Linked DNA regions of Homo sapiens. The protein of the gene in region 2 purifies or fractionates together with the protein of the main gene of each other region. This does not show direct contact. Each region holds a gene or a part of one and is shown on either strand. Other genes may lie near its edges. The genes, in order: DDX47, NOL8, URB1 and DDX51.

Region 1 (4,719 bases), on a different chromosome or scaffold from region 2:
CCTTACCTGACTCATTTGTCCATGGAGGGGGATGGCAGTGAAGCCAAGATTTCGCAGTAGCAAAGCTGTTCTCTGGGTATTATTACAGGTGCTGCAGAATATCATAAAGGAGTTTCCAGCCAATTCATTTAGAATATAAACCAGGTAGGTATCCTAAGTTACAAACCCAAAACAATATATGTCATTGAACCTGGGAGACAGGATTGGAGACCTGGCATATACATAAGGTAAAGACTAAGCCTATAGTCGCTTTTCAATTATCCAGACCTCCAGCTGCCAGCTTTGCATTCCTTAACCAGCATTATCATCTCTGTGAACCACATATTCCCCACTTAGCCTTAAGGCAGGCAGGAGATCTGTACTCAGCAAACAGGAGAAGTCCTTATATCAAAGCACAAAACCAGGGGCTTCATCCTAAATAAAAGCCACATAATAAGCAGACAAAGGAAAAATTACCTCAAGGATGGGGATGGGAAGGAATTATATGATTACATCATGACCTCAGTATTGTGATTTAATGTGTTGTGAATTCCTGGCATGTCTGGCTTATCGGTGATAATATAAGCACGATATGCACTCTAAAGCAAACAGACAGGATGCCAATCTGCATTACAGCTCTTACCTAATCAAGAGTTGACACATTTTCAGATGCTTTGGTGAAAAGAAGAGGGAGAGGCAGGAATGATCAAAGTAAACATTTTACCTTGAATTTAGAGGGAATAAAAATATAATATTGCTGTAATTTTTCAACTGTCTGGTATTTAGAGGAAACGGCACATTTCACAGGATTCTTCAGAGCTGCTCGCTGAAGTTTTTGAACCTGAAGGAAGAAGATCCAGAATAGCACACTGATGCCTAAACACTCTTTATTTATGACATGGTTTGGCTCTGTGTCCTCACCCAAATCTCATGTTGAATTGTAATCCCCACATGTCACGGGAGGGACCTGGTGGGAGGTTATTGGATCACAGAGGTGGTTTTCCCCATTGCGGTTCTCATGATAGTGAGTTCTCACAATTTCTCATGGTTTTAAAGTGTGGCACTGCCCCCACCTCCTGCCTTGCTTCCCCTTCACCTTCTGCCATAATTGTAAGTTTCCTGAGGTCTTCCCAGCCATGTGGAACTGTGAGTCAATTAAACCTCTTTTCTGTATAAATTACCTAGTCTCAGATAGTTCTTTATAGCAGTGTGAAAACGGACTAAAGCAATTTATTTTTCCTTATTGTTATTACTATTTACTTTATGTATCAATTCTCATAAAGAAGAAACAAAAGTCCTAGCAAATTTCACCTTCTTGGTCATGGTGGCAGAGAAGAGGAATGTTTTCCGATCTCGAGGAATCACTTTGAGGATCTTGTCAACCTAAAGCACAAAGAGGAAAAGATGCCAATATGATATTCAGACTGGAAGAGCTGCAAATCCTCTAGGTAGTGAAGGAGGTAGACACTAACAAACTAAATATATCACTGTGAAGATTTGGGACTCGAAAATTCAATTTGATTCAGCTAAAGTTTACTGAATATTTACTATCTGATACCCTACCAAATACTATTAAAAAAAATACCTTTCTGAGAAAAGAACAGTTTAAATTAGTAGACCAGAGCTGATTTAAGAGAAAAGTCAAGAAAAAGTATTAATCAACTAAGTAAGCTGGGATTAGTGGGTCATCAAAGAAAATAAAGATATTTCAGGGTGTATGTCAAGGTCTAAATTAAACGAAAGGGAAAAGAAAATCCGGTTTTGATATTTCCCATTTCTGAAGTCAGAGTCAGACTATATTCTAAAGATAAAAGGGTGCTGAGAAACTGCAATTTGAAGAATATCAAGAATGAAACTGATACTAATGCAATGTTCTACATGAAACAAGTGGGCAATGAACCAAATTTTGAAACAGGAACCTTGAGATGCTCTAAGAGGAGGAAAGAAATTGAGAGCTCACCTCTGTCTCAAAATCCATATTCAGTATTCGGTCGGCTTCATCCATGACCAAGTATTTGAGAGCTCTCAAGTTGAAACCTTTCGTATTTTCCAAGTGGTCAATCAGTCGACCAGGAGTTGCTACCAAGAAAGGTTGAGGAGAAACAGTGACATTTCAGAACAGGACAAAAAAAAAACAAAACAAATAAACAAATAAAGTTATCTGCCCCACCCCACAGCTCTCCACCAAATTTAACTTAAGAAATTAAAAAATTTAACAGGGTTACAAAATCTGTTTCTCAAAGTCTTTCTATCCAACACTGGTAGATTTTCTCCAATTCATCACTGCCAGTGTCTTTTACCTTTGTCAGTTACTCACCTATTATTATATGTGGTTTTTTTGCAAGGGCCAAAGATTGAGACATTGAATCAATTCCACCTACAATCACAGCTACAGAGAAAAAAAGAACATAGAGACGAGATCCTTAATTTTTTCCACAGTCCACTGAACATCTTTTAAAGCCAATGCCAGATTTCTACTTAGATTTGTTCTTCCCTTACAATTAATACTCTTCCCAAAGCTCAAATACAACATTAGCTCTTTAGGTCAATAAATTATGCTAGCAATACTTTCCTCCATTCTCCTTCCTCCACACTCATTCTTCACTTGTGATGGCAACCTAGGATCCCTTCCCTCTCAGACACTTACCACTCTGCACTCCAATAGAGGACCCCAGGGCTTCAAACTGCTCTGAGATCTGAAAGGCCAGCTCCCGAGTCGGGGTAAGAACTAGGGCAAACAAACGCTGCGGGGTCTCCAGCAGTGCGTTTAGAATGGGCAAAGCAAAGGCGCCTGTCTTTCCAGAGCCAGTTTCTGCAAGCCCAATGATATCACGACCTAAAAGAAAAAGAAATTCAACAGCCAAGTAATCTCTTTGCGCTATTTCTGTGTTTTCTACAATGACACAATGCTGGGCACAAAGTAGACGCTTAATAAATATCTGATGAACTGGGGAGAGAGGAAAGTTGAATAAACAGAAAAGACATGGCCTCTCTCTTAGATAAGCTCAAAACCCAGTGGTGAGACAGACAAATATACAAATGCATTATAATGTGATAAGAGTTTTAATATAAGCCCCTGCAAAATACAGCGAGAACACAAGGAAAAGTAACTACTGCCCAGAAGAGTCAGAAAAGGCTAACAGAGGTGATAAGTGAGTTAAAACTGGAAGTAAGCAAAGAAGGGAAGAAAGGATATTCCTGTAAGAGGAAAGAGAATTAAGGCTTTAGAGAACATAGCATGCTGGCTGGGCATGGTAGCTCACGCCTGTAACCCCAGCAGTTTGGGAGGCCGAGCCAGGCAGATCACCTGAGGTTGGGAGTTCGAGACCAGTCTGACCAACAAGGAAAAACCCTGTCTCTACTAAAAATACAAAATTAGGCGGGCATGGTGGTGCATGCCTGTAATCCCAGCTACTCGGAAGGCTGAGGCAGGAGTATTGCTTGAACCCGGGAGGCGGAGGTTGCGGCAGCGGTGAGCGGAGATCGTGCCACTGCACTCCAGCCTGGGCAACAAGAGCGAAACTCCATCTCAAAAAATAAAAAGAACATAGCATGCATAGTTAGGCTGAGAAGTACAATGTGGCTGGAACACAGAAGTGTTAAGGGAGAAAGAGGGAAGAATGAGGCTAGAGTTTTGATGTTTTCCTATAAGAAAGAATTAAAGGATTTTAAACAGGGAATATCATGATCAATATTACTGTTTAGGAAGATAAACTCTAGACCTGATGGCATAAGGAGGAGCCAAGGAACTTAACAGTGCATGCCAGTTACTGCTCCTTCTGAGGGAAGAATGCTCTAAGTAATTCTTTAAGAACAGGTCACCACTGTTTGCTATCACCACTCAAGCCACAACTCATAAGACTTGGAAATTAACTCCTGAGTTGAGATCACTATCTCCGAGCTGGCTGTAGCCCATGAGGTAGCTATGCACTACCACAGTGGCCAGTGAGAATGCTCCCTATTAAATCATGACCCCTACAGTTGCTGCCCCTGTTCTGACTGTGTAACTGCTGAGAAGTTTTCTTTACCTAGAAGATAATCCTACAATAAACAAATCTCTTTTCCCTGACATAACCTGAACATGACTTACAATCAGAAATGACTTAAATGACCAGAACAGGGAAAACAAAGGCTTAACTGGGACATTGGATGTAATTCAGGGGAGATATGATGGTGGCCTGAACTGAGGCCAGGAATGAGCACAGGAATGAGATTCAGAAACTAACAAAAGGAAATGTGGGTGACTCACACATTTTTAGTACGGGACACTCAAAAGCCAAAAACTGCAATATAGGCAACAGAAAAATTAGTCCTGGTGAGGAAAATAAGGACTTTGGTTTCCACACAGGGAACTTGGAACTTAAGATTCCTATAGTAAACTCAAAGAGATATGTCTAAAAACCAGTTGGACATACTTGTTTAGAGATATGTCTAAAAACCAGTTGGGCATAATTATTTGGAGGTATGTCTAAAAACCAGCTGGACATACTTGTTTGGAGCTCAGGAAAAAAGTGGGGGTTAGAACAGACATGGGAGCCATGAGTATCCTACCACTGGTACTTCCTCAGGGGCAGATGCTTCAGAATAATCGATGAGACTTACATATATATATATGCCCGGTCCCATGCCTGGAAATTCTGATTCAGTAGGTCTTGGCTGGGACCTAGAAATCTCTATTTAAAAAAAAAAAAAAAGCTCCATAGATGATTCTGAAGAATACAGACTCACTGATGCAGACAG
Region 2 (4,719 bases):
ACCTTCCAACATTTGTCTGTCTAGATTTCAGAGTTACTATGGACATGTGACTCCTTTGTGCCTGTTTTCTTTCATTGAACAGTACCTATAGTGGTTATCCAATGCCTGTTCCACCGCTCTATATTGGAGGAAGGGTAGATAACTTGCTTTTTTAGTTCATAGGTCTTATCAAACAGAACTGCACTCAAGGTACTGTACTCAAGGAATAACAGAGAAGCCTCATCTGTACTTAGATCTGATCTGAATGATGACATCCTGGATTTTGAGCTGATGTAAAGGGATGAGACTTCTTAGGGGTATAGGGAGGGGGTAAACATATCCTATTTGTTCAATACGGATTATCTGAAATAACACACATATATCCTACATTGGAGGGAATATTAATATTCTACTTTAGTCTAAAATGTGATTCTTTTTAAAAGAATAATTTTGGAACAATTTTAGGTTTACAGAAAGTAACGAAAATAGTAGAGTTCCTAAATAGCCTTCACTTTGTTTTCCCTAATGTAATTATGTGTGTATGTAACTAGGATATAATTGTCAAAATTAGAAGATTAACATTGGTAGATTACCACTAACTAAACTCAGACATTGTTTTGATTTCACTAGTTTCTCCACAAATTGTCCTGTTGTTTCAAGATTCAATTCAGGATACCACACTGCCTTTTGTGATTTTCGTGGCTATTAGCAGTTGGAAAATGAAGGATTTAAACCAAGCTGCTACTGGTTGCTCCATATATTTGCCATGTTTATCCAACTGACTGCACATCTATAGGAAACAGAAGCTCCTACCACACTAGATGGTTGAATGGTTGCCCCCCAAAAGCTATGTCCATGTCCTAATTCCTGAAACCTGTGAATGTTAACATTATTTAGATAAGGGGTCTTGCAGAGATATTAAGTTAAGGGTCCTAGGATGAGGAGCCCATCCAGGATTATCCAAGTGGGCCCTGAATGCTATCACAAGTGTCCTTATAAGAGGCACAAAGAGGAGAGACAGAAAAGAAGAGGCCATGTGAAGATAGAGGCAGAAATGGGAGTAATGTAGTCTCAAGCCAAGGAACACCAAAGGATTGGTGGCAGTCACTAGAAACTAGGAGAGGCATAAAACAGCTTTGTTTCCCTGAACCTCTAGAAGGAACATAACCTGTTCACTATCTTAATTTGGGACTTCTAGGTTCCAGAACTGTAAAGAAATAATTTTTGTGATTTTAAGTAACTAAGTTTGTGGTAGCTACAGAAGACACAAGAAACTAGTACAAATAAAAGGCATCATTTATACAAATAAAAGGTATAAATGATAGGAGTACATATCATTTATAGATTCCTCTGTTAAAAGGTAAGACCTCCTCCACCACATCAATAATTCCTTTCTAACTCTACCTGCACTACCCCTACCCCACCAATCTTAATACAGTGGGACCAATGAGTAGGATATTGGTTCCTACCTACATTTTTAATTGTCTGAAATGAGATTAATTTACATGATCCTATTGCTAAAAGAAGTAGCTCTACTTACCTTTCTTTTGGCTTATCATCTCTTTTTCTTTCGTAAGTGGCATGGTCTTGCTTCGTTGGATCATAATGTATGATGTCCCTATGTAAAAAAAGGAAGGGAGGTTGGAAGAGATAAAAACAGAACACTAATACAAAAAGTAAGTAGCAAATTATAATTCAGCACTAGGAAGATTCTAATTTTGCAGCAAGAAGAAGCCATATAACATCAGATAAGATAACTAGGATCTTACTAGAAATAACATATACATAGATTTTTCTTGGAGACAGAGTCTCGCTGTGTTGCCCAGGCTGGAGTGCAATGGCGTGATCTTGGCTCACTGCAACCTCCGCCTCCCAAGTTCAAGCGATTCTCCTGCCTCAGCCTCCCAAGTAGCTGGGATTACAGGCATGTGCCACCATGCCCGGCTAATTTTTATATTTTTAGTAGAGACGGGGTTTCACCATGTTGGCCAGGCTGCTCTCCAACTCCTGATCTCAGGTGATCCGCCCACCTTAGCCTCCCAAAGTGCTAGGATCACAGGTGTGAGCCACCATGCCCAGCCGAAAAAATATTTTAAACTACCTACTTTTGAGATTTCCTGGATTTTTTTAGCTTTTAAAATGATTTTAAACATACTAAAATACATACAGATAAAATGATATACTATCTGGGATTTGCATAAAACATTTCATTGTGTAAAGTAGGGGTTGGATAAAGGTATAGAAGAGAACACTGGTCACATGTTGGTGACTGTAAAAGCTAGGTGATGGTGTACAGGGCTTTCATTACCTGGTGTACAGGTAATGATGGTATACAGGGCTTTCATTAGTCTCTCTAAATTTCATGCCTGAAAATTTCCATAACAGTTACGTTTATATAAATACTTTTACAGTTACTATTTAAACTGTTTCCCATTTGTTTCACTAATGAAAGCGATGCTGCTATGACATCTAAGTGTATAAATACAGAAATAATTTAAGATTAGTTCCTTGAAGTGAATCACTGGGTCAAAGGCAAGTATATTTTTAAGGGTCTGATACATATTGCCAGCTGCCTCCCCAGGCCATTAAAAGAGACCTAGTTTTAAATTGAGTTCAAGAAGACATTTATGGCAAAGGATGATATGGTAGAATGGGATGGAACATAAAACATACTTAAATTTCTTAGCAGCTACTGATCCTCTGTTTGTAGAATTGCTTAAGTTGATTTGCAAAACACTTTGTACAACATTCAGGGCTTTCTTTTTTTCTTCAGCAAGCTCTTCTTCCTCAGCAGTTTTCTTTTCATTTACCTCTTTGAGGAAAAGGGATAATTAATACTCTCTTGGAAAACACAGCCTGAGAAGTCTCAATCATCAAATATTTACCAAGTACCTAAACATGTTCAAAATCCATTAAGACAGGAAGAAGAAACTTTAACCTCATTTCACTAACCTCCATAACCAAAGACCCTCAGTCATAGCAAACTCAGAAAGTCTGCGTGACCAGACAATGAAAAGTCCTACTTCTGTTCCTAATTATGAAAGTCTGAATTTAATGGCTTTCAGTAGCAAGTCTAAAACTTTTAAGGTAAAGATCGACAAATGTAATAGAGCAAGATACTAATAACTACAGTGATTATAGACTCTTTGATTTTTTTAACATTCTAAACATAATCTAAATTACGTAAATCTAAAAATGATAAAGAGTGAAAAATGGTAATGGTATATCTGACAATATAAGATATTAGTGGATAGTTGTTTCAGTCTTTGATTCAATAACAAGTATTATGGGAAAAAAACCATATGCCCTACACATACTAAGGCATCATGGACTTTTACAAGCTACTATCCTCAACTACTACAAACAGACAAAATATCACAGAATAAAGTTAAACAGCTAGTTTGGATTACAGAAATACAAAAGTAGTCTAAGCCTGTATGACTCTTTCAACTTACTGCAGGATATAAATAACCAACTAACAGAAACTAGAATAAAATGCTAATTTAAGTACTCTACAGGGATGCCCCCAAAGTTTCTAAGGGTTCAAAGGAAGTTGAGATAGTGTTTAACTGAATCAAAAGATGCTTTATAAACTAGGTAAAGTTATGAGGTAGGAAAGATAGAGTTGAATCCCTAGAGGTGGTAGGAAAGCATGCTAGGTGTTGGAAACAAAACGAACACATATATTGAAATAATAAAGTACAAAAAGTTTACACTGCATTAGGTTGAAACTGCTAATTTCAACAACTTTTGACTATCAAAAACATCAATTTAAATTTTAATCTAATAAGCATTAGGGAAGTAGATTATAATGCTGAAAAAGGCTCAAGGTGATATAGGCTGGCTGTGCTGCTTACTTGAGACAAAACGTTGTGCCTCAAAATTTGGGAAGGGGTCTGGTGCAGTGGTTCCATGCCTATAATCTCAGCACTTTGGGAAGCTGAGGCAGGAGGATCACTTGAGGCCAGGAGTTTGAGACCCGCCTAGGCAACACAGCGAGACCCTGTCTCTATGAAAATACAAAAATTAGCTGGACATGGTGGCACATGCCTGTAGTCCTAGCTACTAGAGAGACTGAGTTTGAGGTTACAGTAAGCTATGACTGTGCCACTGCACTCCAGCCTGAGGAACACAGTGAGATCCTGTCTCCAAAAAAATAAAAATAAAATGTTGAGAAGGAAAGAAAAAAACAACAACAGAGATTCTAAGAATGGACACGCCATCAACGCAGAAAGGTTAAGAAGAGCTGGTTTGGACTTGCTGAGTTTTAACACAAACTCAGGAAAGCCTGTGGAAAATATCCAACAGGCGTTTAAGACCAGTTGGGAGCTCAGCAGAACAGCAAGGAAGAAAGAAGATCCAAATTTGAAAAATACTCATGTGCAAGTGAAGGCTAAAGCTATAGGGACTTACAGAACCCTGGGAAGAACCCATATTTGGAGGCAAAAGAAAAATTAGGAATAAAGAGTTAAGAAAACCAGGAAGTTATGATGCAATTGGAAGCAAAGTGAACATTTCAAGAAGGGATGATCAACAGTGACATATGCTCTAGGTTAGCTGAAGAGGATGTCATTGGAGACAATGCCACTGCACTTGGAGGACAAGTTGTTTACGGCTTTGAGGGAACACACACCCAAAGAGTTGTAAAGAAACAGACAAAATTGGCAGAAGTTAAGAAAATAACCTATGTACCTTCTAAATGAAGGTTAGTCTCCAGGTTCTGTTCATTCTTGTGTTTTC
Region 3 (4,719 bases), on a different chromosome or scaffold from region 2:
ACCTTCCCCGATCCACCTACACTGCACAGAAGCTACTATGAATGCTATCAACTTAACTGTTTCTCTCCAAAATTCATGTTGAAACCCTAAACCCGGCCGGGCGCGGTGGCTCACGCCTGTAATCCCAGCACTTTGGGAGGCTAAGGCAGGCAGATCACCTGAGGTCAGGAGTTCAAGACCAGCCTGGCCAACATGGTGAAACCCCCTCTCTACTAAAAATACAAAAATTAGCCAGGTGTGGTGGCACATATCTGTAGTCCCAGCTACTTGGGAGGCTGAGGCAGAATTGTGTGAACTCAGGAGGCAGAGGTTACAGTGAGCCGAGATCGCGCCATTGCACCCCAGCCTAGGTGACAGAGCAAGACTCTGTCTCAGGAAAAAAAAAAAAAAAGAAAGAAAGAAACCCTAAGCCCTAAAAAGACAGTATTTGGAGATATAGTCTTTTAGGAGATAACTCAGGTTAAGTGAGTTCATGAGGGTGAGGTCCTGATCTAACAGGACTGGTGTCCTTAGAGGAGAAGGAGACATCAGAGAGCTCCCTCTCTGCATGTGGATAGAGGAAAGGCCATGTGAGGACACAGCAAGAGGGCAGTTGTCTGCAAGCCAGGACGTGCCCTTACCAGGATGTGACTATGCCAATGCCTTGATCGCGGACGTGGCCTTCAGAACTGTGAGGAAATAAATTCCTCTTGTTTAAGCCACCCAGTCTATGGTATTTTGTTATGGCTGCCCTAGTAGATTAATCCACAAGGACATTATGAACACACTTAGAAACCATGAAGGCAATAAGGAATGAGACAAACTGAGTGCCAATGTGACTCCCAGGTTTGACTACTGAGTCTGGCAATGACTCGTCTGGATCCCCATAGAGCTTTTGTTCCCTCAACTGTAGAATGGGTATAACAAGAAAAACCATATAGAGCATGGTAACGAAACATTACCAAGAGCTTTACTTACATGACATCAGCTAATTCTCACTGCAACCCTCCACCCTAGGTATGAGTATTTTTTTCCCTAGGTACTAGTATTTCACAGATGAGAAAACTGAGGCCCTTGTCCAAAGGTACACAGCTTAGGAGAGGTAGAGCCAGGACTCCAATCCAGGCAGTCGGGCTCCAGAGCCCATATTCTCCCTCCACGAACTGGATGATTCCTGCTCATGCAATGGAGCTGATGCCTGTTGCTCTGAGTGCACTGGCACACAGAGTGTCCGTGCTGCACCTGGCCCACAGTCAGTATGCCAAGCATCAGTTGACATCAGTGCTCTTTCAAAACCCAAAGGAGGGCACCCCACTAGAGTGTTTCCCCATAAGGCCACCCCAGAAGTTCCCCACTCAAAAATCTCCCCTCTCAACAGCCTGAGGATTCTACTACCCTTCCTGCAATTAATACAACCTCCCCTCCCCTACCACTGACACCTGAATCTGAACCCCCACCACAACCCCACCCTACCAACTGGGAGCCACCTGTGTGCCGCTGCCCACAGAATTCTCCTGCCAGAACCTGTTCTATAAAACTGCCTTTCAGAGAATCACTTGAACCTGCCTCTCGGAGAATCACTTGAATCCGGGAGGTGGAAGTTGCAGTGAGTCGAGATCGTGCCACTGCACTCTAGCCTGGCAACAGAGTGAGACTCCGTCTCAAAAACAAAACAAAACAAAAAAAACCCTGCCTCTCTCTGGTTCCACTCTTTGGGCCATACTTCTCAAAACTAGGAAGGCAGGGCATGGCAGTGGGTTGGAAGCCGCATGAGAGCGTAAGCTAAAGGTAACACATCTTACTGAGGCCTTCATCTCTTCTGGGGAGTGAAGACTTCACCTTATTCAAAAAAAAAAAAAAAAAAAGCAGAGGAAGGGACTAAATATTTCTATTAAAACCCACTTAGTAATGACCAATACAGTAAAATGTAAAATGCCACAAACTTTAAGAAATACACTACAGTCTTCATAGACACATCAGAATAGCGTGGTCTGCTTTAGGGAGTGTCTGGGCATCCCTAAGGGGTCCTTCCTTCTCTGCCTTGGGGCCACAGGCAATGGATCTAATCCTTCTTTCCCACACCAGCTGCCATCACCCTAGTCAGCACCTCTGAACACCAAACACTTCCTTTAACCTCTCTCCAGAAATGAGAGTTTCGAGATCCTTCTGTGTTCAGGTCACTCTCTATGTTCCCTTGAAGCATGAGGCCCAGAACAGGGCTTGGTACTGCAGGTGAGCTCCACTAGCTGAGCAGAGAGGACCAACACATGCTTCCTCTTGGACAGCAATTCTGCGTGTCTCAGATTCAAGTCCTGACGCTGCTAAGCCACATCTGCCGGGGACGCATGAGCACGCCATTACACCAAAAACATACCAGAAAAGAACAAAATTGGAGCCAGACTCCTGGGCACAAATCCCCGCTCAGTCACTTACTAGCTGCATGGTACTCAGTAAGGCACTGAACTCTGAGCTCTGGGTACCTCACCTGTATAACGGAACAAGAACAGAACCTACCTGACAGGGTTTGTATGAAGCGTAAAAAGGCTAATTTACACATAAAGCATCCAGCATCACACTTAGGTCAAGGTAAACCCTCAAAACATAAGCAGCCCCCCGGGTGTCCTCAGCAGCAGCAGTGAAAATCCAGTCACATTCGGCCTCTGCCAGCCTCACAGGTGTTTTCAGATCCCCTTTTATGCTGCAACATTTTCCGCAGCAACCACCGCCATTCCTTTAACAGTCACTGAGCAAGTGCATCTGCTATGCCAGGCGCTGCTCTGAGCTTCGGGGCCAGACTCCATTGCTGCCGTCTGCAGCGTGGTCTGGTGGTGATTATGAGCAGGCCATGGGTGTTCTGACCAAGGTGACTGTGAGTTACAGGAGCTCAGTCGGCACAGGCACCCTGGAGTTATGCATACCTACTCTGTCCCTCAAGAAAACACAGAATGCAAGTGATAGCAAGGGCTGTTAATACAGAAAGAGCAGTGCAACTACTCACTCTTTTTTAAGGAATTATTCGTCAAACTCTAGCATGTAACTCTGAGCATTCCAGAGTATTACAGGGTGGAAACTGCTGGCCTGTTATGTTTGCCGTCTTTACAGGTTCATCTTTCCATACACCATTTACTGGGCACCTACCAGGTGCACCTACAGGGGGTGCCCGAGACGTGCTGATGAGCAAATTAGAAATGGCCTCTACCCACATGGTCCTTACAATCTAATGATAGAGACCAATGTGAGTATTTATTAAGCACCTACCGCAATCACTTACATAGACACGTATAGCACCTGTAGTAAGTGCTATGAAGCAAACATCAAGAGTATAATGAGGACTGTACCTAGGGAACATGATCTAGATTAGAGGGTTGGGAAGGTTTCCTTTGAAGAAGTAATGCTGAACCTATTATTAATAATAGTAAACGTAAGTATTGAGGGGGCAGAGGGTGAGACCACATTCCAGGCCCCAAGGCTGGAGGGTACACTGGAGCCAGGTGAGTGGGGAGGGGTGACTGAGTGAGTGGGGGAGGGCAGCCTGAGATGAAGTCAAAGAAGCAGGCAGGGCTAGATGAAGCAATGGAAATGACTTTGGATTTTATCCTAAGGGCAGTGGGATACCACTGAAGGGTGTCATGAGAGGAGTGACATAATCAGATTTGGAGCTCTGAAGGATCATTTGACTGCTGCACACAGCACGGGCTGCAGGGAAGCAACAGCAAGAGAGACCAACTCTGGGCAACTCCAGCCACGGTCCCAGCAGGGACTGATGATGCCTGGACTAGAATGATGATGAAGGAAAGAGGGGGAGCAGACAGATTCCAGAAATTCTCAGGAGGAGAATCAACCACCAAGGCCAGGGGACAGACTGATGCAGACGGAGGGTTCTGGCAGGAACATCCAGCTAATCAGAATTACCACTTATGCAGTGGGGAAACCAGAAGCAATGTGGGGAGAAGGAGATCAAGAGTTTAACCATTAGTGTACTCTCTTACAGTATGGCCTTTTCTCTATCACCAGTGGAGTCGTGGGCAAACACTTTCAAAGGAACTGGCTTAGAGCCAAACCCTTCTTGATGGGGGATCTTCCCACAGGCTGACACTGATCCACTCTGGAATATCCTCAGTCCTTACCAATCTAACCTGGCAGCTCTTGTTCCTCCACTACACGAAGGGAGCATCATCAGAACCCTTCCCTCACATGCCTGGTGAAAACAAAGTCTCCTAACAGCCATCAACTTCACTTCCCTGATCTTCCAGCAATCCTATCATAGGTTATGAGAGCGTATAAAGAGGAAGAGAGGAGGAGAGAATCCAAGATACAGACCAGATTCAAACACAAGTTCAACACAGCCTCAAACAAGGGATCCACACTTTCACCCATTGACTCAGCTTTGCCCCATCTTTCAACTACTCACCTACACCCATGCCCTGTCAACCTGGGTCTCCTTCTGACATGTGTTCAAATGATGTAGCACCTGAATGTCATGAGGCTCTCTGTGCAAGACCATGAAATATAGATACTACATCTTTTTAACAATTAAACGTGCTCTTTCTTCTGCCAGTAAGGTTCCTGTCCCTGTCCCATCCTACAATCCTTTTGAAAAGCCACTTCCTCTGATGGCCAGTGATGATGAGCATTTTTTCATGTGTCTTTTGGCTGCATAAATGTCTTCTTTTGAGAAGTGTCTGTTCATATCCTTTGCCCACTTTTTGATGGGGTTTTTTTTTTTCTTGTAAATTTGTT
Region 4 (3,832 bases), on a different chromosome or scaffold from region 2:
GGAAAGGAATCCCCCAGTGGACACAGCCTTCCTCCCCAAGCACGTGGTCTCTGCGCCAGGCAGCCCGGGCGTCAGAGCTCAAGCACCTGCCCCGACTGGAGACTTCAGGGCTTGTCACTTTCAGAGTGTGGAGGTCAGGATGGCTGCGGGCAATGAAGCCTTAGTAAAACGGTGAAAAGTACTCCCAGACGGACGCGGGCACCCGTCATGCTTTTGCTGAGAGTTGGGGGCATTAACCTTGAGCTAATGTTAAAAATCAAGCTCTTGGCCAGGCATGGTGGCTCATGCCTGTAATTCCAGCACTTTGGGAGGCCAAGGCGGGTGGATCACCTGAGGTCACGAGTTCGAGACCAGCCTGACCAACATGGAGAAACCCTGTCTCTACTAAAAATACAAAATTAGCCAGGCGTGGTGGTGCATGCCTGTAATCCAGCTACTTGGGAGGCTGAGGCAGGAAAATGGCTTGAACCCGGGAGGTGGAGGTTGCAGTGAGCTGAGATTGCGCCACTGCACTCCAGCCTGGGCAACAAGAGCAAAACTCCGTCTCAAAAAAAAAAATTGCCGGGCGCGGTGGCAAATGCCTGTAATCCCAGCACTTTGGGAGGCCGAGGCAGGTGGATCACAAGGTCAGGAGATAGAGACCATCATTGCTAACATGGTGAAACCCCGTCTCTACTAAAAATACAAAAAAAAAAAAAAAACAACTAGCCGGGCGTGGTGGCGGGCACCTATAGTCCCAGCTACTCGGGAGGCTGAGGCAGGAGAATGGCGTGAACCCGGGAGGCGGAGCTTGCAGTGAGCGGAGACTGCGCCACTGCACTCCAGCCTGGGCAACAGAGTGAGACTCCGTCAAAAAAAAAGCTCTCCTCCCCAGATTTGTGAACCTTGTGACTGTTCAGTGGACACCTCACATATTGCTGGTGGGAAGGTCACGTGGAGACAGCTGGGCAAAGCCTTGGGGCGTTAAACACAGAGTCACTCATGACCCAGCACTTCCTCTCCTATGCACCTTGTACACCCCAGATCAATGAAACCTACATCCACACAGAAACGTACACAAATCTCTCAGCAGCACTGTTCACAGTAGCCAAAAACTAGAAACCACATGTCCGTCAGCTGATGAATGGAGAATAAAACGTGGGAAATCCACACCAGGAGAGAAAAAGGAGTGAGGCACCAGCATAGGCACCCCGTGGATGAACCCGGAACCTGACGCTAACTGAAGGAAGGCTCCGGCTATAGGGAGTGTCCCAGGCACAGCCAGAGATTGAAGGGTGCCGGGGCCGGGAGTTGGTGGGGGTTGGGGCTGGGGACACAGTGGCCAGTGTGTGGGTTTGTTTTGGGGATGATGAAAATGTTCTTAGGTTGTGTGTGGTGATGGCTGCTCACCTCTATAAACCTTTTACTAAAAACCATGGACTGGGTGGATACAGTGTGTGAATTCTCTCAGTCCAGTGCTTTGTTTGAAAAAGGTGGATGATGCCAACATCACTAACCGCCAGGGAGACGCAGGCCACGGCCACACCCGGCTCACTGGAGTTGTGAGGATGGAAACACCAGCCCACCCCACTCAGTTCAGACCTCAGCTTAGATGCAAAGAATGTCTGGGATGGGGACTGGCAGCTGATTAGAGATGCAACCACTGAACCTGTGGACTGTGTTCAAACAAATGCCAGCAGAACACAAAAGGCGACTGTTACAGGAGGCAGAAAGAAATGATTTAGGTAGACGGGGTAAAGCCAGTCCCCAGCAGAAAATTTGCCTTTTAACAAAAAGCAGCTCAAAAATAGCTCCCTTTCTAACCTCGGGGTTCAAAATCACTTCTCACGACAAGCAGCCAGAAAGAGCAGACTGTGAATCACAGATGAGACAGCTCGGGCACAGGAGTGCGGGGGGTGTCTCCTGGGTGATCACCAAACTTCACACTTCCACAATGGGCCCCAGTAAAACAGTGGACCCTAATAAGCACATTCCCGTCCCCTTAGGTGCACTAAGGGAAGCTAAAAGCAGACTGAGGGGTGCCTGTAACCCCAAGAAGATGTCTGGGAGCAGACCCAGAGACCCTCGCAGAAAAGTGTCACAGAGCAGCACAGACTGAGTCTGACAGAAACTCTCTATACAAATAGCACACCTTGTCCCAGCTAAAACCCTGGGCCCTGGGAGGACAAGACATCCCTCCTCTAACCCCTCGTCACTAGCCCATTTGTAAAAACCTTGACAGGCCGGGCACGGTGGCTCACACCTGTAATCCCAGCACTTTGGGAGGCTGAGGCAGGCGCATCACCTGAGGTCAGGAGATCGAGACCATCCTGGCCAACATGGTGAAACCCCATCTCTACTAAAAATACAAAACTTAGCTGAGCGTGGTGGCGTGTGCCTGGAGTCCCAACTACTCAAGAGGCTGAGGCAGGAGAATCACTTGCCCGGGAGGTGGAGGTTGCAGTGGGCCAAGATCAGCCCACTGCACTGCAGCCTGGCGACAGAAAAAAAAGAAACCTTGACATCTTTACTACAACTTAGCAACCCGCTCAGGCCCCCTCTGCAACGGAGAGCTCTTCTTCCTTTTTGCTTATTAAACTTCTGCTCCAAACTCACTGTGTGTGTGTGTGTCTGTCTGCGACCTCGATCTCCTTGGCCATGAGACCAAGAACCTTGGTATTTACCCCAGACCACAAGGCTGCTTCACGATGATTGCCATTTATCGGGGATTGATAGTGGCTCAGTGCTGCTGGGTTCGCAGACATAAGATGTGGGCCTGGCCACACACTCGGGAGGTGGGAGGAGCGGGCACCGTGGGCACACTCGGGGAGGTGGGAGGAGCGGGCACCGTGGGCACACTCGGGAGGTGGGAGGAGCGGGCACCGTGGGCACACTCGGGAGGTGGGAGGTAGCGGGCACCGTGGGCACACTCGGGGAGGTGGGAGGAGCGGGCACCGTGGGCACACTCGGGAGGTGGGAGGAGCGGGCACCGGGGCACACTCGGGAGGTGGGAGGAGCGGGCACCGTGGGCACACTCGGGGAGGTGGGAGGAGCGGGCACCGTGGGCACACTCGGGGAGGTGGGAGGAGCGGGCACCGTGGGCACACTCGGGGAGGTGGGAGGAGCGGGCACCGTGGGCACACTCGGGGAGGTGGGAGGAGCGGGCACCGGGGCACACTCGGGAGGTGGGAGGAGCGGGCACCGTGGGCACACTCGGGGAGGTGGGAGGAGCGGGCACCGTGGGCACACTCGGGAGGTGGGAGGAGCGGGCACCGGGGCACACTCGGGAGGTGGGAGGAGCGGGCACCGGGGCACACTCGGGAGGTGGGAGGAGCGGGCACCGTGGGCACACTCGGGAGGTGGGAGGAGCGGGCACCGGGGCACACTCGGGAGGTGGGAGGAGCGGGCACCGGGGCACACTCGGGAGGTGGGAGGAGCGGGCACCGGGGCACACTCGGGAGGTGGGAGGAGCGGGCACCGTGGGCACACTCGGGGAGGTGGGAGGAGCGGGCACCGTGGGCACACTCGGGGAGGTGGGAGGAGCGGGCACCGTGGGCACACTCGGGGAGGTGGGAGGAGCGGGCACCGTGGGCACACTCGGGAGGTGGGAGGAGTGGGCACCGTGGGCACACTCGGGAGGTGGGAGGAGCGGGCACCGGGGCACACTCGGGAGGTGGGAGGAGCGGGCACCGTGGGCACACTCGGGGAGGTGGGAGGAGTGGGCACCGTGGGCACACTCGGGAGGTGGGAGGTAGCGGGCACCGTGGGCACACTCGGGAGGTGGGAGGTAGCGGGCACCGTGGGCACACTCGGGGAGGTGGGAGGTAGCGGGCACCGTGGGCACACTCGGGAG

The links.
Region 1: the proteins of NOL8 (region 2) and DDX47 purify together in Homo sapiens (affinity purification with mass spectrometry; one large-scale study listed by BioGRID and IntAct). This does not show direct contact.
Region 3: the proteins of NOL8 (region 2) and URB1 purify together in Homo sapiens (affinity purification with mass spectrometry; 2 studies listed by BioGRID and IntAct, with this or other methods). This does not show direct contact.
Region 4: the proteins of NOL8 (region 2) and DDX51 purify together in Homo sapiens (affinity purification with mass spectrometry; 2 studies listed by BioGRID and IntAct, with this or other methods). This does not show direct contact.

The regions. Positions count from the first base shown.
Region 1 is NC_000012.12:12,819,304-12,824,022, reverse strand, and holds part of DDX47 (probable ATP-dependent RNA helicase DDX47), read right to left. Parts: intron 2,816-4,719; coding exon 2,627-2,815; intron 2,369-2,626; coding exon 2,297-2,368; intron 2,059-2,296; coding exon 1,940-2,058; intron 1,363-1,939; coding exon 1,291-1,362; intron 821-1,290; coding exon 704-820; intron 154-703; coding exon 7-153; intron 1-6. UniProt on the Homo sapiens protein: Required for efficient ribosome biogenesis. May have a role in mRNA splicing. Involved in apoptosis.
Region 2 is NC_000009.12:92,304,234-92,308,952, forward strand, and holds part of NOL8 (nucleolar protein 8), read right to left. Parts: coding exon of another isoform or gene 4,704-4,719; exon of another isoform or gene 4,672-4,703; intron 2,792-4,671; coding exon 2,653-2,791; intron 1,598-2,652; coding exon 1,520-1,597; coding exon of another isoform or gene 1,516-1,519; exon of another isoform or gene 1,515-1,515; intron 1-1,514. UniProt on the Homo sapiens protein: Plays an essential role in the survival of diffuse-type gastric cancer cells. Acts as a nucleolar anchoring protein for DDX47. May be involved in regulation of gene expression at the post-transcriptional level or in ribosome biogenesis in cancer cells.
Region 3 is NC_000021.9:32,385,776-32,390,494, forward strand, and holds part of URB1 (nucleolar pre-ribosomal-associated protein 1), read right to left. Parts: intron 1-4,719.
Region 4 is NC_000012.12:132,135,352-132,139,183, reverse strand, and holds the end of DDX51 (ATP-dependent RNA helicase DDX51), read left to right. Parts: 3' UTR 1-2,590; downstream 2,591-3,832. UniProt on the Homo sapiens protein: ATP-binding RNA helicase involved in the biogenesis of 60S ribosomal subunits.